Regions from separate parts of the Homo sapiens genome. Here region 2 is linked to region 1. Evidence: fine-mapped QTL for protein levels in blood plasma. A gene starts in region 1. The other region holds a variant in brackets. All regions are shown on one strand. Distances are between the middles of the regions. Region 1 holds the start of SNX9 (sorting nexin 9). Region 2 overlaps ZDHHC14 (zDHHC palmitoyltransferase 14).

What was found. A credible set is the group of variants that fine-mapping cannot tell apart. PIP is the chance, under the fine-mapping model, that this variant and not a neighbour inherited with it causes the effect. Protein levels are from antibody-based Olink assays in UK Biobank. Linkage for the fine-mapping came from a reference panel and not from the study's own genotypes, which makes the PIPs less certain.
Region 2: its variant is the best candidate, but not a certain one, in a credible set for the plasma level of the SNX9 protein (UK Biobank, PIP 0.62).

What each region holds. Positions count from the first base shown.
Region 1 is chr6:157,815,575-157,826,465 of GRCh38, reverse strand. SNX9 (sorting nexin 9) reads right to left here and starts at 3,220. Exons shown (of 18, transcript NM_016224.5): 1 at 3,020-3,220. The coding sequence starts at 3,031. RefSeq lists an enhancer at 2,392-2,441 and a silencer at 3,092-3,411.
Region 2 is chr6:157,667,527-157,678,417 of GRCh38, reverse strand. ZDHHC14 (zDHHC palmitoyltransferase 14) reads right to left here. Exons shown (of 9, transcript NM_024630.3): 9 at 261-5,694. The coding sequence ends at 5,296. Among named protein-coding and RNA genes, the nearest start is that of MIR3692, 140 kb to the right of the region's middle. RefSeq lists enhancers at 7,838-8,443, 8,444-9,051. The variant G/C (reference allele first, on the strand shown) is at 6,802.

The DNA of each region.
Region 1 (10,891 bases):
TGCAGTGGCGCAAAATCGGCTCACTGCAAGTTCTGCCTCCCGGGTTCACGCTATTCTCCTGCCTCAGCCTCCCGAGTAGCTGGGACTACAGGCGCCCGCCACCACGCCCAGCTAATTTTTTTTGTATTTTTAGTATAGATGGAGTTTCACCGTGTTAGCCAGGATGGTCTCGATCTCCCGACCTCGTGATCCGCCCGCCTCGGCCTCCCAAAGTGCTAGGATTACAGGCGTGAGACGGCGCCCGACCCTGATTAACTTTCTTTAGCAGTGAAGGACTGTCAAACTAAAGTTCTTCTTCTAAAAGATAATTTCCTTTTTTATTGTAAAATATAGTAGTGGAGTTTTTAAAAATCCCAATAGTTCAGTGATAACCACATCCTTAATACGTAAGAACAAACAAGAAAATTGTATCTGAAGATACTATAGCCAAGTCTCTGATAAATTCAAAGGGAAATCGACATCCCTTAAAATATCCAGATACTGAATTTACTTTTCATCAGTTAATACTTATAGCAACAGCCTGAGTGCCACTGGAGCCTACATTTTTATTAAAAGTTAGTCATTACTACTAAGCACATTCTCCCCACCCCTTGAAGAAGACAAAGAAAAAACACAACTACTCAGGTGTGGGGAAGGAGTGTGCATATGGGGGAAGGGAGGAAAGCACCAACTTGACTCTCTGGGAACAATTAAAAAATGAGACTTTGGTTTGACACAAGAATCACCAGCATGTCAGAAAACAAAGGAAGGGTCTTCTTTTAATAACTGCTTCGTTGCTCTTCTTTTTCTTAAAATGGAAATGGTTTGTCACAATGTAAACATGGAAATGAGCACCATGTGGAACAGTGATTAGGCAGCCGAAAGAAACTAACAGAACTACTGGAATTTGCCTTTGGAGTGGTGTAGATAACGAAGTAGGAAGTCCTTACGCATGCTTTAAGGCTCGTGTTTAATCAAAGACACATGCAATTCGAGATTAATATACAAGAACCACTTTTCGATTTTTTGGAAAAAAATTAAGTTCAGGATTAACTATGAAATAAAAATTTCACTATATATACCTGCACTAGTTGCTAAACTGCATTCCACTTAAAGGACAGTACAGATAACATGCCTCAGTAGACCAGAGTGTAAAAACACACTGACCACCACTAGACAGATCTCTATGTCATAAACCGTCTTCTCTTTTTTCAAACGGAGTCTCGTCTTTTCTTTTTTCAAACGGAGTCTCGCTCTGTCGCCCAGGCTGGAGTGCAGTGGCGCGATCTCGGATCACTGCAACCTCCGCCTCCCGGGTTCAAGCGATTCTCCTGCCTCAGCCTCCAGAGCAGCTGGGGCTACAGGCGCGCGCCACCACGCCCAGCTAATTTCTGTATTTTTAGTAGAGACAGGGTTTCACCATATTGGCCAGGCTTGTCTCGAGCTCCCGACCTCAGGTGAACCACCCACCGCGGCCTCCCAAAGTGCTGGAATTACAGGTGGGAGTGAGCCACCGCGCCCGGCCTATAAACCGCTTTTAAGGTTGCAAGATGAGCATGTACTAGGATGTGTAACTGGTAATTTCTGGAATGTCTGGCAACAAACCTCAAAATCAAATTTCCTTAGAAATCCTTGGCCTAAGTTTTATTTTTAAAAAGGTCAACACAAAATTAATACGTTAAAAAGGTGGCAAGTTCTATCGCATTAATAAAACCAAAGCACAGCACAGGCAATAATATATTAACAAGAAGGTAATTATTTCAGTAACAGCAGCAACAGGTTCCCTGGAGGAGAATCCCCATTTCTCTACAAACGCTGCACCTAGATGGATTCAGAGCACAAAATTTACCACAGCACAACATCTAGCAGACCGAAGTCAAGCAATGCTGATCTTTCAAAGAGATTTCACATTTCTTACCATTTTCTACCTTAACACTCCACAAAAAAAGCAAACACCTATCGAAAAATAAAAAATAACGTTTCTAGCAACCCAAAAGTAGCTCAGAGATCTCAAAAACAAATAGACAAAGGGGTGCTGATGCTAACAAAGTGACATTACAAAAACTAAGTGCAAAAGTAAACCCACTCCTCACAGTGTATCACAGATCAGTTAATGGCTCAGGTATAGAGCCTCCTCCCCCAGGTCCTCCCTTCCGTGACCGTGACTTCCCCAGTGGCTATTCTACATCAAGTAACTACTGAAAACGCCCAAGGAAAAGGAGCGGGGGAGGGTGGCTTTTGAAAATTCAGGTAGCCAAGAGTGACTGCTAATTTCATAAACAATAACGTAAAACAAGCAAACCACCGCTCCTAGCCAATGACGAAGCAGGAGTCAAAGTTCCACCACGTAATTCGGGCCTGGGCCTTTTTTCAGGCAAACACGTAATCGAAAGCACAGTCATTTCCCTCTTGATATTTTATTCATGCCGGCAATGCCATTCACAATGAAAAGGTAGCAAAACAAAAGAAAAAAATAACAGCAGCGAAGGCAAAGGGGCGCGGGGCGTCCCAGCCTCGGTCCCTCCCCGGCCGCGAGCCCCCGCAGGCCGGGACGGGAAGCGCCGCGTCCTCTCCGCCGAGGTCTCGACCCCCACCCGCCCCGCGGGGGCGAGGGTCCCCCAGGCGGCAGCGGGAGGGGACGTGGGGGCGGCGGGGACGCCGGACGCCACAGAGCGCCAGTCGCCTCGGGGGCCTCCCCGGGCTGCGGGAAGTTTCCGTCCCGCGGCCCCTCCCGGCGAGCCCGCCGCAGCCCACGCTCAGGTGCAAACTTCCCAAACCTCGCTGCGCCCGGGGTCCCAACCCGCGCCCAGACCCGACGCCGTCCCCCGGTGCGATCCTGGTGGTCTGTCTGCACTGCCCGCCGCACCCATGCCCAGAAGGGACTGGCTGGGCCGCGGACCCGCCCGGGGACTCCACCGAGGAAGCGGAGTGGCCCCTCGACCACCCCTGGCCCCGACCCTCCCCGCGGCCCCGGCCCCGACCCTCTCCGCGCCGCCCCGGGCCTGAGCGACCGGCCCGGCCTGCGCCGCGCGCCCCTCACCTTGGTGGCCATGGCGGGCGGGTCCCCCGGCCCGGGACGGCCGGCTCGTCTCCCGCGCCGCGGATGGTGATTCTGAGCCGCGCAGGCAAAGGCAAGGGCGAGGGCGGCGGCTCCGGCTGGGCCCCGGCGCGGCGGCCGCTCCTCCGCCTCGGCCCCGAGTCTCGACGCTCAGGCCCAGCCGCTGGGCGCTCGGCTACTCCCGCGCCGCACGCTCCTGCAGTTCCTGAAAGTCCCCGGCTGCGCGGCCCCCGCCCCTGTCGGCCGAGCCTCCCATTTACCGCGGCGCGCGCGACGCCCGCCGGAAGCGCGCCCTGGGCCCTCGGCCGCGGCCCGGCCTCCTCGCCTCCTGGCCGCCCCCGCGCCGCGCCGCCGCCCCGGGCAGTCACCGCCGCCGCCGCCGCCGCCGCCCCCGGGCGCCCTTGGTCGAGGCTGGGAGCGGCGTCCCGCGCAGCGGCGGGGTCCGGACGGGCGCCCCAGGCCATGGCCCGCAACCCTGCGTGGCCGCCCCAGGGGAAGCGATCCGCGGCCCACAGAGCCGCTCGGGGTAGCCGAACCCCGACTCCGGTTCACGCTCGGCCGGCGCCGCACGCCGTGGCTCGGCGCTTTCCGTGCATGAGGCGGGAGGGGGCGGCAGGAACTCTCGACGCCCCGGGCAGACAGGAGCCCCGCAACCCCGCTGTCTTTGCCCCACGCCTGGGGTGTTGCGGGGTCGCCGTGCCCTTGGCCGAGTACCCTGAGTACCACATAAACAGCTGGGAAGGAGCGGAGCGATGGCTTCCTGGGCCTCTTCCTCCTGCCCGGAGGCTCCCTCAGGCCGGGGTCCTGGCTTGAAGCCCCTGGGACGGGACGGTGGGGGGTTTCGTTCTGTGACGCCCCGTTAACCTCATTCTGGAATCTTGATAAGCTTAAAAATACCGGAGGGCCCGAGAGGTTTGGGGGACAACAGGCTCTCTGAAGTGGAAACGAGGTCTCTAAAATTTTCCATCTTTCTGTCAGTGTTTCTTTCCAGAGTTGGAGATATATATATGGGTGTTATGAATAAACGAATGACTTGAATTGAGCAGCAAGATTTTTCACTCAAGGACAAAACACGACTGGAAGATGTGTCTTAATTGGCATACTAGTGGAGTGCTTTTTTATTATTATGAGGGATATATTTGTAAGAAGAGACAACTATCAAATGTAAATCTCTGGTGTTTAATGTCAAGTTTGTGTCTTCTTAAATACATTCTATTTGACCTGAGATTTCACTAGTTATATTCAATAATGGGGTTTAAAATAGATACGGTATTGCAGAATTTTCTGTGAATTTTTGTGTTTGTTGAGCTCATGGTTAAGCTATAGTCATCATAATATGCATAAATAGTTGTCTTTCTCCGTAAAAAAAAATATTGGGAGGCCAACATTCATTGACGGCCTGCTTGCTGTATACTAGGCTTCCACATCCCCATCTCATTTAATCCTTATAAGAAACATTTGAGAAACTCATTATTGTCCACTGTTTACAAAGAAGAGCGACTCAGGGATCACTTAAATAACTTGCCCATTTGGTAATACTTATTCAAATCGAAAATGACCGTAGCCTTGGACCCAGCAGCCCTCCTGGGAATTTATCCTGTCAAACACTTGTACAAGTGTTCAAAGATGTTCATCAAAGATTGTTCTGTAATAACTCCAACCAGAAAGCAACCTATGTGTTTGTTAACAGGACTGTTTCAGTAAATAAGATACATCCATTCAAACAAAAATACTAGGAAGCCCGTAAGAAAATGATAATATTCTAAGAGGTGTTAAGAAAGATAAAAAGAACATTATGTATGGTACATTTATGTAAAAAAAAAAAAAAAAAGGAAATATGTGACACATTCCTAGAAAATTTCTGAGAAAGATTCGCCAGATCCTGTTGTCAGAGTTTTTGACCATGTGTATATATGACTTCATTTAAAAACAGCAGTTATATTTTAATAAACAATGGAAGAAATAACTTGGCTAAGAGCACACACTAGTATGTGGAAAAGCCAGGATTTGAACTCAGGCAATGTCATAAGTAATGAGTTTTCCATATTCTTTTAAATGTGAAGGCTGGGTACAGCTCTCTCTGCAGCCGTTCAACAATGCATCCCTTGATAGGAAGGTGCAAAGTTAGGGGCACACCTGTGAAGACAGGCCTTTCCACATGCTCATCTGGCAAATCCTATGCAAATAGTCATCCTGGGCACCCAGCACCATGAAAGCAAGAAGACTAGAGACTTCAAGCTTTTCCCACCAGAACAATTTCATAACCCTGGTTTTATTTTTTAGAAGTAATGGTGGAGGGCTAAGGTGGAAGGATTGCTTAAGCCCAGGTGTTCAACACCAGCCTGGGCAACATAGTGAGACCTCATTTCTAGAAGTTTTTTGTTGTTGTTGTTGTTTTAAAAAGAGCAAGACTGTGAAAAACAAATGAAAAAGTACATAAACAGAGATAAACATGGCCGGGCGCTGTGGCTCACGCCTGTAATCCCAGCACTTTGGGAGGCTGCGGCGGGCGGGTCACGAGGTGAAGAGATCGAAACCATCCTGGCCAACATGGTGAAACCCCGTCTCTACTAAAAATACAAAAATTAGCTGGGCATGGTGGCACGCGCCTGTAGTCCCAGCTACTCAGGAGGCTGAGGCAGGAGAATCACTTGAACCCGGAAGGCGGAGGTTGCAGTGGGCCGAGATCGAGCCACTGCACTCCAGCCTGGGCAAGACTCCGACTCAAAAAAAAAAAAAAAAAAAAAGAGATAAACATGTGCACTTTCACAATAAGCCACACCGAAGGGATCTTGAACATAACTAAAATCTTTTTCACATTTTTAGTAATGAATTGGGTAGTATATCTCCAGTAAATACTGCTAAACTTAGGAGTTTTATTTTTATATACGTCAGTCAAAATCAACATTACTTCATGAATGTTATAGAGGAGACCCACTTTCATAGAATATATTTGTATATAGAGAGAGAGACTGGGTCTTGTTCTGTCACCCAGGCTGGAGTGCAGTGGCCCAATCTCGGCTCACTGCAGCCTCCGCCTCCCAGGTTCAAGTGATTCTCCTGCCTCAGCCTCCGCAGTAGCTGGGATTACGGGCACCTGCCACCATGCCTGGCTAAGTTTTTTTTTATTTTTTATTTTTTATTTTTAGTAGAGACAGGGTTTTGCCACGTTGGCCAGGCTGGTCTCAAACTCCTTATCCTAAGTGATCCGTCTGCCTCAGCCTCCCAAAGTGCTGGGATTACAGTCGTGAGCCACTGCACCCGGTGGTGGCGTTTGTCTTCTGCTCCCACTTGATCAACCATGCATATCTCTCTTCTGTCCACCTCCGTCCTTTGAGCGAGCTTCCTTAGAGTTGATTCTCTACGCAGGCCTGCCTTTAGAACCCAGAACCCAGAACCCTGGGCCATGCTAAGTTCAGATTTTCTTCTACAGCATGAACTTCCATTACTCCAGGGGTGAGAACACAATTAGTTAAGCAATTGGATTTGCATTTGCAGACTGCGTTTGGTTATTACTAGATTGCACTTTCAAAAGAAAAAGACCTGGAGGCAGAGCAACAGAGCCACTCTGTTTAGGCTTTGTACTCTAGCTGCTTTTTTTTTTTTTTTTTTTGAATCATGCCACAGGAGGTAAAGTGATTAGGATTCACAGGAAGCTTCGTCCAGCCACACAGCTGGGGGGACAGGAAAATAATGACCACCACCTCTTCCCTGCGTTTGTTCAGTATGGCCAGGTGTTTTTATTCAAAATTAGATTCTCCTTTGGTTTTTAAGAGCTCAGAGCCCAACTAAATGCTTGGTCAACTAATGGGAAACTAGCATGGGAAAGTGCAACTATGGGAACTAATGTGGAACGGAGTGAAAATGTGTGATGGTCACCTAATGTAAGGATCGGAGGATGAGAATAATGTGTAACAATACAGAGTCAGCCTGGGTCTGGCACAAGGGGATACCTCCTCTCACTTTAGGGCATGAATTTAATGAGGTTAAAGAAAACCTTGGGGTGACCTTGAAAATAAACGTGGAAAGGAGTGCAGCTGGTGCCATTCCAATCCTAATAAACGTATGACGTCCTCACCTTGGACTGGATGCTGTTACAGGTGAGGGAGACAAAAGTCCCTGCTCTCTTAGAACTTAACAATCTGTAGAGGGTGGGGGAAGTCAATAAACTACAAATAAATGTCTAATGTGCCAGGTGCTTTTATAAGTGCTCTGAAGAATCTTTATAGGAATAAAGAGAAGCAGGAGAGGTTTTTTCCTATAAGGTTTCCCCTTGGCATTAGACTAGCTGAATGTATGTATGAAAAGTGTATGGTTTTAAAATTATGTTTGTTTTAGTTGGTTAGCTGATTGGTTGGTTTTCATTTTTGTTCCATTTTGACTAAGTCACATTTCTTTCTCCATCGTCTGGGAGACACAGAGCCGTAAACAGTAACGGGACATAGTGTCCAGAACTAGAAATTGAGCAGAAATCTGACTGCTAGGACCTGAGCAGTCCAGGAAGGGACAGTTGGCATGGGCAGAGAGAGACTGGAGGCTAGGGAGGCTGCATGGATGGCAGAGGTGGCAGCAGCAGGCGGTGTTAGGCTGGAACAGGAACCGTTTGCTCAAGGTTCTATACTAGACTGTTTGCTGAGTTTGGGTAGTTCCGACTCCCAGAAGGACTGAGCTGTGAGGTGAGGGCAGCAAGAGAAGATTGGCTCACCAGTTGGCTTCCCAAATGAAGTCCCAGCCTGTAGGATCCCTGGTGTCTCATGAAACTTTGCCCTAGGATATTGTTTTAATTCTTTGACCTGTTAAGGACAGGCTGGCGTGAGTCCTTGGAGACGTACTGGCATTCAGTGATTGGGCACAAAGAAGTAACAGTGGATATAGGACATTTTGCTAGTTCATGTGTCATTGCTCAAGTTACAAACTGTGATGGTTAAAACTGAGTGTCAACTTGATTGGATCGAAAGATGCAAAGTATTGATTCTGGGTGTGTCTGTGAGCCTGTTGACGAAGGAGATTAATATTTGAGTCACTGGGTTGGGGAAGGCAGACCCACCCTTAATCTGGGTGGACACCATCTAATCAGCTGCCAGCACAGCTAGAATATAAAGCAGGCAGAAAAACGTGAAAAGAATAGACTGGCCTAGCCTCCCAGCCTACATCTTTCTCCTGTGTTGGATGCTTCCTGCCTTTGAACATCAGACTTCAAGTTCTTCAGTTTTGGGACTCAGACTGGCTCTCCTAGCTCCTCAGCTTGCAGGTGGCCTATTGTGCGACCTTGTGATCATGTGTGTTAATACTTAAAAAACTCATATATATATGTATATATATATATGTGTGTGTGTGTGTGTGTGTGTTTGTGTATATATCCTATTAGTTCTGTCCCCTCTAGAGAACCCTGACTAATACACAAACTATAGAGAGTTCTTTTTTTTTTTTTTTTTTTTTTTGAGACAGGGTCTCACTTTGTTGCCCAGGCTACAAACCAGTGATGCAATCACAGCTCACTGCAACCTTGACCTCCAGGGCTCAAGTGCTATTTATTTATTTATTTATTTATTTAGAGTCAGAGTCTCCCTCTGTTGCCCAGGCTGGAGTGCAGTGGCACGATCTTGACTCACTGCAACCTCTGCCTCCCGGGTTCAAGCAATTCTCCGACCTCAGCCTCCCAAGTAGCTGGAATTACAGTGCCTGCCACCATGCCCAGCTAATTTTTGTATTTTTAGTACAGATGGGGTTTCACCATATTGGCCAGGCTGGTCTCTTTGGCGAGGCTGGTCTCAAACTCCTGACCTCGTGATCCACTGGTCTCGACCTCCCAACATGCTGGAATTACAGGCGTGAGCCACCACGCCTGGCTCAAGTGCTACTTTTAAAGCTAAAAGCCCCACATAACATGCCAGCACACACTGACACACTCTCATATCCTTGCTTTATGGAAGGCAACTCTAATGACAGTGCTTGCTAAATACAAGTACAGGACATTTGCTGTGACCGCCATGATTTAGAGCCAGACACTGCAAATTACAGCCTCCATCCCTTGTGAGTCCTGTTCTCCTTCCCCAGGGCTTTCATCAGAAAGCCCACCCACTGCTGAGTGCTGAGTGCTGAAGAGATGGCCTTGGTCGTGGCATCAGGCATCCTTGGCTTGAAACTCACTTCTGCTGCTTGTCACCTGTGTGAACTTGAGCAGGTACTTTCATCTTGATCCTCAGTACCAATGTCTGTCTTGTCTGTTCAGGCTGCTATAACAGAATACCATAGACTGGGTGGCTTATTAACGACAAATGTTTATTTCTCACAGTTCTGGAGGCTGAAAAGTCCAACATCAAGGCACCAGCAGATTCAGTGTCTGGTGAGTGCCCCCTGGTTCATGGACAGCCATCTTCTCGCTATGTCCTCACATGGTGGAAGGGTGAACAAGCGCGGTGGGATCTCTTTTATAAGGCATAACTCCAATCATGAGAGCTCTGTCCTCATGACCTGATCACCTCCCAAAGTCCTCACTTCCAAATACCATTACATTAGGGGTTAGGATTTCAACATCTGAATTTAAGGAGGACACAAACATTCAGTCAATAGCATAGCAGTGTTGCCCTGGGTTTGTTCTGAAGAGTCCGTGATTAACTGGAGTAGCAGGAAGTTCTAACAGATCTTAATAGTTATTATAACGATGTGCTGGGCTTCATGGTGGTGGTGGCCAATATCTTCTTGCAGTTCTCAGTTCTGTAACAAATTTCCCAAGATGCTGTTTTCCAATGACTACAGAGTATTGATCACACCCAGTACCTGTATTTGCTCACTCCTGTGGCATTCCTTTCTTCTTTTTCTTTCCAGTCATTCATTTCGTTCCTCAATATCCTCTATCTTTTACCCCACTGTATTTCATTTCAGTCCCTTGGTGTATTTCATCTCTTCTTTTCCATGTCTAGAGAATGTTCCTAACTCTAGTTTCTCAGGATTTTTCCAGGCACATCAGTAACTTTTCTGCTTTTTAAAATCATTAAAGCTTTTGATGAAGTAAGAAAATGTCAAAATGCAAAATATCCTTTTTAGTAAACAAGTGCATAAAGCTCACAATTCCAGTAAATACAAACTCCGCATTAGTTTCAAAACAGGTAACAAGTTTATTGTTATACTCTTTAGAAATTCTAGCTTAATTTAAAAAATATTAAGTAAATGACTGTTTAGAAACACAGATGGTTCTTATAAATAGTTATGATCTACCCGTTACCTCCCGTGTCAATATTTGCATAGCAAAGGGGCGGTTTTCAGGGGGCAATTGTGTGTTCATTGACTGGAGGGATACACACAAGAGCCCTGGCCTGGTGCTTGGCACTCGAGGAGTTTAGGAGGCAGGGGTTCCTCTCATGGCTGGTGTGGTCTATTAGCTGCTGCTTTTTTTTTTATTATTATACTTTAAGTTCTGGGATACATGTGCAGAATGTGCAGGTTTGTTACATAGGTATACACGTGCCATGGTGGTTCGCCGCATCCATCAACCCGTCACCTACATTAGGTATTTCTCCCTCCCCTAGCCCCCCACCCCCCGACAGGCCCTGGTGTGTGATGGTCCCCTCCCTGTGTCCATGGGTTCTCATTGTTCACCTCCCACTTATGAGTGAGAACATGAGGTGTTTGGTTTTCTGTTCCTGTGCTAGTTTGCTGAGAATGATGGTTTCCAGCTTCATCCATGTCCCTGCAAAGGACATGAACTCATCCGTTTTTATGGCTGCATCGTGTTCCATGGTGTATATGTGTATTAGCTGCTTCTTATTTCACGCCTAAGCTATCTATTGAGAGCCTACAATGTGCAAAGTGCTATAGGAGATAAGCTCAGTCATGAAAAACGCATTTTGTGCT
Region 2 (10,891 bases), 150 kb after region 1:
CCACGCACGTGTGCATGTGTTAAAAGGTGGCATATAGAACATGCTGGATTAGGGACTTTAAATTTCTGCATTGCTCTAAAGTAGAATTGAAACTTGAGAACCACGTCTGAGGAAAGCAATCTGGGTATCTACGATCAGAAAACCCTCATCCTTATACAGATGGGTGTCCACAACGTGCATATTCACTGAGTGCAAGTCGATTCCTCCCTTCCCCACACATCTTGTTGACCAAGACGATATCTACCTTATAAAGGCTGAAATTTACATTTTATGCCATTAGCAGTTTTTATTGAAGGAGAAAAATTTTTTAATTCATCTCAGGTTTAAGATAAATTCTGCAAACATTGATTAAAACATGAAAGGCACTTAAATAAGCATACGTATCTCTGAAAACATGAAATGTTATGTACATGTGTTCACCATTGTTTGGATTTAGAGCTTTGAATTCACTAAGAGTTTAAAATGCTTTTTTTTTTTTCCATGCCAAAACGTTTGACTGTGAAATATCAACCCAGAATGCTCTGGGAAAAAGTTAGCAAGGCTTCAACCGTTTTTTTTTTTTTTTTTAATTGCAGGCTAAAACCATCTCTATTCATATAGAACCCAGAAAGCATGTCTCCTTGGACATGCCATGTGGCCTCTCGGTTTCACCAGGCATCTTGAAACATCGAGGGCAAGTAAGAGAGTTGTTCATTCATACCTTTATCACCAATATCAAGTTTCTTTTAAAAATTCAACACTTCCTGGGTAGAAAAGTCTCTGCAATAGCACAAGATGCTTGTCTGCTTTTCAATCCATTCTGTGTGTAATTCCTGGGGTTTATGAGATCAAAAAATAACTCCAGTTGTGGCTATTTATCTAGTTTTGTGGCAGCTGCAAATTCGGTTGCTCCAGAAACCATCTAATCTTCAATCTCCCAACTACTTTTAATGGCTGGATTAATGGACTAACACCTTACATGTGAAAATCCATCTTGGCTCTATTATCAGGACCATGGACAATGGGCAGATGGACAGAGGATTTACTGATTTACAAACTATTACCATCTTTGACATTTATTTGAAAAAAAAAAAGACGCTTCAGATCGTTTAATATTTCAATGATAACTTAGTTTTATGAGAGAGAGAGACGTTTTAAGGGAACAAATGAGAGGCAGTTTTTTTTTTTTTTTTTTTTTAAATGAGGTACCTTGGAAAATAGCATACAACTCCACATGCAGACCTCCAAAATAGGTGGAGGGGACCAAGAGGAATAGGAATTCATTTGAAAGTCTCTCTCTTTTGGACAAGAATATGCTAGACTCCCACAGCTCATGTGTACTTGATAGAAAATGTAAACATCAATTTGATTTCGGCTCAGCTTCAAAACAGTAGTAAGGCATCAATTAGAAAAGAGTATTTAATATTTGTTCTCCTTTATTCTTTTCTTACCTGGTCAAGAACTAAATGAACTCAATGTATTCTTGTGGATGGATGAAGGGCAGCTCCTTCTGGGAAGATTCCTTATAATATCAACGCAAACCCCGATCCCTTCTGGTGAACTTAAGACCCTAAGCCGAGGCTGAGAAGCAGTTGGTTCCTGGCATGAAGAGGATGGTTGTAGGCTGAGGTCTGAAGGGAGAAGTCAGGTTACAGAGAAGCGTTTGCTGCAGGGTAGTCAGGTGGGCAGAGACCTGAGACCCTTGGGGAGTAGCCCGCCAGGCTGTGCCCTTCAAAGTCTCTGACCAGTTCTGGTTCCAGCATTTTCTGGGCGATGCCATCAGAAGCCCCTGTGTCAAGGACACCTACTGCCAATTTTGGCAAGTTCATTTTTCTTGCTGTTGAGTCAGACAAGAAGGCCTAGGCCCAGGAGGTGAAGAGCTTAGGGGTTTTCAAAGCCACAGAAGGCCTGGCCCATCAGGTCTCCGCAGGAACATGGCTCATAAAATGGGTTTGCTCCTCACTTGGAACCACAGCTGGCAATCCTAGACAGAGCCGGTGAAGGCCGCAGTAAGCTGGGGGGTGGCGTGGAACTCTGCAAAGACTCCTCCCTTGTGCCATTCTGGGCCAGAACAGAGATTTCGCATTTTGCTGGCTTAGGGTGGGGACATGGCATTGTCCTCACAGGCTGAAATCATCACATTTGAAAGCTGGAACGAGCATCTTTTGGTTGGGCATAACGCAACTGCTGGGCCAATTTCTGCAGAACGGAGTGACAGGTCACTGTGCCCTCCTGGATGCAGTCTGTCTGCCACCTTCCTGCAGCATCCCCCTGCTTCCTGGGGCCCTCCCGGATGCAGGCTTTGTGCCGCCTTCCTGCAGCATCCCCACTTCCTGGGGCCCTCCTGGATGCAGGCTGTCTGCCACCTTCCTGCAGCATCCGCCTGCTTCCTGGGGACCAGGGCACTCACGCTCAGTTCAGCCTTCAAGTGCCGGGAAGCCTGTGGTTCCCTGGAGCACTCCTGGGAGAACGAACGCAGATGAATTTTTAAACAGCAGAATGAGTGTGTGTTTGTGTGTGTTTGATAATGGTCCAAGCTTTAATAGCATGGTAAAATATTTATTTTACTTTTTATAGCTAGCATGTAATCAATCTCTAACACACTGAAAGAAGTTAGAAACACCAACGTCTACTCAGCCACAGCTAGAAGGAACCATTCAACATTTATAAACATAAGTATTTATATTTATGTACATGTCACATATATGTTCGTGGGAAATGCAGAGCCATCACCTCGCCAGGTGAGCTGCCCCTCCGACCATCCCTCCTGACAAACAGAAGTGGGCGCCCCAGGGGGCATCATCGCTCATTCCTCTGATGCTGGGTTTCTTTTTCAAGCCACAGAGGACAGGGCTGTGGGCTTCTCTCTGGTTTTGGTTTTTAAGACATTAATTATCTAGCAAATTGGCCCATTCAAGTTAATCTCTCTCTTGACCCTGAATAGCCTTGATTCACTTCACCAAAATTCCCAGTCCCCTATTGGATAAATGATGCCAAGTGTGTGCCAGGGACAGGGTTGGAGGTGGGGAAATTGATAATAAATATTAAGTAAATATCCATTATGTGAAGACAAGTGAGTCGTGATCCTGGCTTCTGGGAATTTTTCACAGTGAGGTGGGAAGAAGGGCTGGTCACAGGAGAGTGGCAACCACTGAGTTAGGAAATGTTAGAAGCGGGAGGCCTCTGAAGACCATGATCTTGCTTTCCAGGGGAATGAGCTGAGAATGGACTGGGCCACACGTGGGACCGGAGTGAGGGCTAAGCCGGATTCGCGGTCACCCATGGAGCACCGTTCTCATCAGGGCCAACTCCTTCCTGGGGCCTCTGGGGAGCAGGTGGAAGAAAGCAAGGAGCAGAGACGGTTTGGGAAGTTGTGGAAGCTCCTTTGTGGGGCTGTCACTTTGGGCTCACAGGTAGCGTGGACAAGGAGAATCCCTGTGAGTTGGTGCCTGTGAGCGTGTGCGGTTGTGTAAGGAGGGCACTGCCCCATGAATTACACATTGCAGGTGGGTACAAGTAGTTAGGTGGTTCAGAAAATCAAAAATGGCTACATAGAATGGACCTATTCCATTTTCTATACGTGCATGCAGCATGACAATAAAGATGGCTCGAAGACATCACAGTGCAAGAACTCTGCAGGCCCTTTCAGCATGAATTATTTTGTGACCTGTGAATTGCCTTCATTCCAAATAAAACTTGTGTGCTTTTCTTTTTCCTATCTTCTTTTCTTTTATATAAAATGGCAACTCTTTCTCAGGAGTAATAGCCTTTTTCCATAAATGCAAATCACTTGGGTTACTTGTATCATTGGTCAATGTGTCTTGTCTTTCATATGGTTATAAGGAGCAAGGCCATGGCTTTGAACTTGAGTAGCTTTAGCTGTTAGATTTATGGTCTGGAAAGAAGCCAGGAGAGGAGTTGCTGTGTCCCCTGTGGCTGCCCCCATAGTGACACACTCCCTAAGTCCAGAGCCAGTTCGTTCCCTTCTAGGTGACCAATGAAAGTGAACAAAGTGGTCATTTTCTTAATTTCATTCTGATCAGTGTCTAGGAAGGATGATGACCTACATGATCTCAGCTTAGACTGTAAGCCGATTTCTCCTCCTCATTTTCTGATACCTTTACTAGGACCTCAAGTTGCACTTCTGGGATTGAGTGACACGTTAACACAGAAGGAAGCCCAGAAGACGCCCGACAGAACCTTCTCCCTGAGCGTCCCCTCCCCTCTCCCTACTTCCGATCAACTGTTGCACGGCAAACTGCAAACGTAGAGCAAATTCCACTAAGATGGTGTCAAAAAGAGATAATTAAAGAAAATAAATGATGGAAAACTTGCCTCTTATCTAAGAAATTATTCTATAAATATCTCCCAGTTCAAAGATTTGACTTTTGGTTGTCTGGGGACCATTCCTCGCTAGGGACATTTCAAGAAAAACTCTCCCCATCTGGATGACTTTGTTTTCATTTATGCTATTAAGGATAACCGTACGCAGATCCAAAATAACAGAGGACGTCATTTTATTGGCTGTCCACGGGAAGTTTCATCACACACGGAGGTGAAGACTGTGGGGGTTGTGGCACACAATATCTCAACACGAGACCTCATCGAGCGGCCAAACAGAAGGTGAAGTGACACCCGACACGACGGAACCCCAGCCGCCCTCTGCAGCCCCGGTGCCACCTCTCCACAGACGCCTCAGCCCAGTAAGCTGAGTGATGACACTGTCCATTAGTCTCAGTTCGTTGCACTGTCTTCCAACAAAACAGCACTTGAAAATTCACAAAATTAAAAAAAGAAAAAGAAAGCAGCACTTCCTTGGAAATAGCAACACCACTGTAACACAGACGGCAGCGTGGCATGCAGATCCACACCTGGTCGGTTTTTTCCCTTTAGGATTTTTTTTTTTTTTAATTAACAAATGGAATGGCAGGTCTGTTTCAAATATTAGTAGCATAACACATAAGTGCAATTGCAGTCTGGCCACAAGCGTCAGAAGCCTTCCGTGTGTCTGTCACAAGGGCGGGCAGACACACTCCGATTCCACCCCTGGAGGGTCACCAAAAGAAAGCAGCCACTTCTCTATTTCCATTGTTGTCAAAGCACTCAGGTTGGGGAAGAAAATTCAAATGAAACCAAGCTCTCAGCATCCGGGGCCAGCCACCCTGTGCCATCCTAAGTGGTCTCTGTACCCCAGACCTGGGGCTGTCATCTCCACCGTGGCATTGGCTGGGAAAGTCGCTGTGGGACACACCCCTCCGCTCACTCCTGCTGCCCATGGAGGAGCCTCTGGTGTCCCCCGGCCTGGGGCCATGTGGGTCACACGGAGCTGAGCTTCACCAGGCCGCGCACAGAGTCCTCATGCAGGGAGTCCTGGCTGGCCAGGCCCAGCACGTGCATGGTGCGGCTGTGCGCCAGGGGGCTGCCCGCCGCCAGTAGCCTGGGGGGCGAGGGCGCCTCATCGGGCGTCAGGAACTGGTGGCCCATGTGCTCATCTTTCCGGGGCATCACGTCCGCGAGCGTGGCCTCGGCGAGGTTGGGCATGGAGGCGGGCGGTGTGGGCGGGCCCAGTGTGAGGCTGGCGCAGGGCGTGCCCAGGCCAGGCTTCCCGGGCAGGTGCAGCTCGTCGCTGGTGAGGCTGGGCTCGCTCTGCAGCAGGGGCGTGGCTGCAGCCTGCAAAACGAATTTGGTGCTCTGAATGCACTGGTCTTGGTCGCACTGGAGAGCGGGAGGCGCCAGCAAAGAGAAGGTGGAGAGGAGGGGGCAGAGGTGGGGAGGGACAGGGATGGGGACAGGGCACGGGCGGGGAGGGTGGGGTGCGAGAAGAGAGAAACCGTTAGTGACACCTCAGTCAGCCAGGCAGGGAGCGCCTACAGTGGTCCAGGTGCATTGGGAGAGACACCCAGCGCCTGGTGCTGCAATTGCCTCTGCTCAAATGAAGTCACCACGGGTGCCCAGTCATAACATGCAGCCACTGGTTATGAAGCCAGTGGTCTTGGTTCCCAATTTAAAGGACATAATTAAAAAAATCTCTTGGACAGAGTCACAGGCCATCTACAGCAGTGGGTGGCTGTTTCTTGTATGCTGAAAACCATTTTTTAAACCACATTGTTTTAAAAATACAGGAGTTGTACACCCATGTTCATAGCAATGTTATTGATAGTAAGTCAAAAGTCAAAAGTGACTCAAGTGTCCACTGATGGATGACAGCAGGGACAAGGTGCGGTGTAGACACACAGTGTTACTGATTCAGCCTTAAAAAGGAAGTGCATTCGGACACATCCACGAGATGGGTGGACCTTGAGGAAAGCATGCTAAGTGAAACAAGCCAGTCACAAAAAGACGAATAACTGTGTGATTCCACTCAAACAAGGTCCCTGGAGGGTCATGTTCTTAGAGAGAAGGAAGAATGGTGGCTGCTGGGGCGGGAGGAAGAGGGAGCTGGTGTTTAAGGCATGCAGAGTTCCAGCCATGGAAGATGAAGAAGCCCTGGAGATGGGTGGTAGTGGTGGTTGCAGAACAACATCAACGGACTTAATACTACTGAACTTATACTTACAAATGGTTAAAGTGGCAAATATTATGCCATGTCTATTTTACCACCAAAAAAAGAAAAGACTGTTTGGTAAAAGCCTAGAATTCCCCACTGCTAAATTTCCAACAGCTTCAAGAGCCATTCCCGAAGCCTCTGTGGTCTGAGAATGCCCACGTTTGAGAAGACGTTTCCTATTCTTCCACGCGTTCTTAAGTCACATGATATCTGCCTCGTGTCCTCTGTTTCCCTTCGCTCACTGGGCAAAGAAGATAGTGTAAGCACATTTCCAG[G/C]CTATGCGACAGGCACCCCTGATAGCTCCGCAAACCCTCTCCTTGAACTATGGGCAAGTTTCAGAACAGCTAGAAGAGACTTAACAGGACTTATAAATCTTCAACTTGAGCCTGTGCGGTACCTTCTCAGTGAGATTCAGGAGCAGTGTTTTGATGGGAAGGAGGAACAGACATGGATATTAGGTGAGCAAATCGGGACTCTGTGCTCAAGCTATAAAGTGGCTGCTCCACTTCACTTCTGCAGGAGTTCTTAGAATGAGCCTGTTCCCCTCTTCACAAATGAAGACCCTGGGGCACAGATGGGTTGGACAGCTCGATCAAGACCTTACAGATGAAAGTAAGGGATGGATCTAGGATTTGGAGCTGGGGTAGACCTCTTTCCACTATTCCACATTGGACACAGCAGATGCTTAATAAATGTTATTTGGCTTATTATCTCCTCCTCTTTATCAGAAGGCTAGAGTTACTGAAGAACCACTCACCAATGGCTTTGTGATTTAGGTGCTCCGACCTCTTCCTGATAAGAGACTCGCACAGAGCTGCCATTGCTCATACCCCTGCAGCCACAGAGCGGTGCAGAGCCAACATGCACAACGCAGCCTTGAGGGGAGGGAGGAAGTTCACCCAAAGCTGCTGATCCTAAGGCACTTATTTCATGCAGTGCACACTTCCTTCCCAGCCTCATGGGTTTCTTTCTAAAATCACAAGTAGTAGGCCACCCTGAGCCACCCTCCAGCCTAGAAGAGAAGGTTGAGGGGCTGCAGTCTTCAAGAATCTGCAGGCTTTAGATGCTCAAAGATTAGGTCCTAGGCAAGAGTAAAGTTCATAGTGGAGCTATGAAGAGGGCAAGCAAGTCTCACGAAGATCCTTGCTTTTCTGTGGCTTTAGCCTGGACAGTGCAATTGCAAAACACTGAGAAGCTGGGGAAGGCTTGGGAAAGAAAGGTGCCAAAGTGCGGGGGAGGGGAGGGGAGTAGGGTTATTTGGAGGAAAGGAAAGGCCATTAGAAACTACTTGGAAGGCGGCCGGGCACAGTGGCTCATGCCTATAATCCCAGCACTTTGGGGGGCTAAGGCAGGCAGGATCACCTGAGCTCAGGAGTTCGAGACCAGCTTGGGCAACATGGCAAAACCTCATCTCTACAAAAAATACAAAAATTAGCTGGGCATGGTGGCACACAAATGTAATCCCAGCTTCTCAGGAGGCTGAGGTAGGAGAATCATTTGAGCCCAGAAGGCAGAGGTTCCAGTGAGCTGAGATCACGCCACTGTACTCCAGCCTGGGCGACAGAGCAAGACCTTGTCTCTAAATAAATAAATAAATAAAAAGTACTTGGAAGGGGCTGACTGTGAAGCGTTAACAATCCTTTCCACTCATCACCACAATCATTTGTGCCACGGCGGTGCTTCTCCAAGCTGTCAGGTGGGCAACAGAGTAGCTTTCTCTGCTCTTGCAGGGAATTTCAGCTCAGGGTGCAGGTCCCTTCCGGTGGGGGCTACTGAGCAGGCTGCAGACAGCTGTGGCCTGTGTAGGCTGCGGGCGCTCTCCCATGCTGTCAGCTCTGCTCAGGACATGGGCTCAGTCTTGACAGGGCAGAGGCAGAGGCAGAGCAGCCTCATTGATTAAACATTCGTCTTCTGGAAACTATACCAGGGTTTGGACGGACTGTGCTTTGCAAAGAATGTTTTATGAACATCACCGTTTCGTATTCTTACTGACAGAGGCAGCTGAGCCGCAGCGGCACTCCCATTTCCTGTAACTCCGCACAGCCTCCAGCAGGCCGGGCCTGGGAATGAGCCCAGGGCGGAGCTGCCGCTTCAGAGAGCTCAGCTGGCAAGCCAGCGCCCTTGCTGGACCAAGGCATCTTGTTTTCAAGCTTCCCCTCTGGAGCCCTCACTCATCCTAATGCTTTCTGTCCACACAATACCCCCTGGCTCTAAGGAACAAGGAAATGGCAAATTAGATTTGCTTGTCTCTGTTGACCTGAAGAAAGCCTTCTCTACTGAAGACTAATTGGCAAATTCTGTTTTAGGGTTCAGCCCAAGTACTTCTGACTGACTCTCACAGACTCACAGAAAAATATGTTCGAGGGTGGAGCTGGAGGAGACAGTCAAGGTCACACAGTAGGAGCCTGAGGGCAGAGGCGGGCTCCTCTCCTTCCAACCCTCTCTGTCTCTTTCACCTTCCCTGTGGGAAGAGGTGGGCTCGCCTCAACCCTCTGTTTCTTTCAACTTTCCTCTCTGGGGAGAGGTGGGCTCTCCTCCACTCTCTGTCTTCCCCCCCCACCACCCCTCTCTTGTGCATTCTTCTACTTTGCACTACTCCATCAGCTGCTGGCCCTTTTCCTCTCCCCTGATCACCTCTCTGCCACCTAAGCCTGCAAAGAGCTCCTGCACACCCACGAGAACCTTCTCGGATAAGGTGGCTGTCGGCAGTGGTCGGTTAAGCTCCTGAGAGACTGTGTTCCCTGTTGGGGTTGATGCAGAGTTGGGTGCACCTTCGGAGACTTCCATTTGCAAACATCCCTTTGCTAACTTAAAGATAACAGCCCTAGAGGTGGCTTTACTGGGAAGCTAATGATGCTTCAGGCTCCTTTACTTACACAGCCTCTTTCCAAGGCCTCGTTCTCTGCATATTGTTTGTTTTTTCTTAAAGGAGGTCTCCCATGGCATGGTTCAGACCACTCCAAACCTGGCCCACTCCAGCACATACCTACTGGTGCTTTGCCATGCTGTACCTACGACTTGTTAAGAACTGTAGCAAACACTGTGTGGGCCTCACTGGCCAGGACCTTGTTGGAAATGCTCTTGAGTTTGTCAAGGGTGAAGCTTAAGGACTTGAAGAAGGTGTGAAATAATATTTGTGAAAGAAGAAGTTTAGCCTAAGCCATTTAATTTTTGTTTTGTTTTGTTTTTTTTGAGATGGAGTCTCACTCTGTCACCCAGGCTGGAGTGCAGTGGCACGATCTTGGCTCACTGCAGCCTCTGCCTCCTGGGTTCAAACAATTCTCCTACCTCAGCCTCCTGAGTAGCTGGGACTACAGGCACGCACCACCATGCCTGGCTAATTTTTGTATTTTTTTTTTTTTTTTTTTTAGTGGAGATGGGGGTTTTACTGTGTTGGCCAGGCTGGTCTCAAACTCCTGACCTCAAGTGATCTGCCTTCCTCGGCCTCCCAAAGTGCTGGGATTACAGGTCTGAGCCACCGTGCCTAGCCCGTAAGCCATTTAATTTAAAAAATCTATATAGAAGTCACTCAGAAATGTTTTCCAAATGACTCTTTGGAACCCTGACTTATCTGATGATAAGCACCTCTTCTACACAGATTTGTTTAAACATCTTAAAAGATGACTGTCTATCTAAGTCTAGCTATGGGTGTTTCCCCTGATAGAGGGACTGCTTTTGTAGTAATAATGAACCTACTCTCTGTGCCCTCCCCAGCTTTCCTGCTGGGATGACAGCAGGGGGCAGGGGCACTGGCATCAGGCACCTAAGTATCTAAGTCCTGCGTGTAGTTCACAGCTTTGAAAACACTTTGCCACATTCAAACTGATTTCCATTTAGAAGGCAAATCTCAGTTGGGGCACACGGGGACCAGGCTCTGTTCTGCAGGGTGTCACCCATCTAAATCTCCTGTTGGCTCAGAAGAGAGCACTGGCGTGGACAGAGCAGAGTTTTGTCAGATTCCAACCAAGGGTAGTGCAATGACTCTACTGACTGGAATTTACAATTCTCATTAAACGCTCTCAAAACGTCGCCTGTTTTGAACATATGCTTCTTAGAAAAAACTTAGATATCAAATGACTCAGGGATACCTGATTTTTTTAAAAGAGCTTTTCCTAATTTTCCACTCTGCCAGAATTCCAAGGGCGATGGGTTCATAAACCTTCATGGCTGTGATTCTCATTTGAGAAAGTCATGGGGGAAAATGGCCAGTATTTTCAGGGTTACTGTGGAGATGGCCATGACAAATATTCTTACACTTCCCTTTTTTTTTTTTTAAACCTTTGCTTCTAATTCTTATTTGCCCATTTCTTGTTGACTTTTCTACTTAACTTTCTTGCTCTCTGGACTCACCAACTCTCTTCCCCT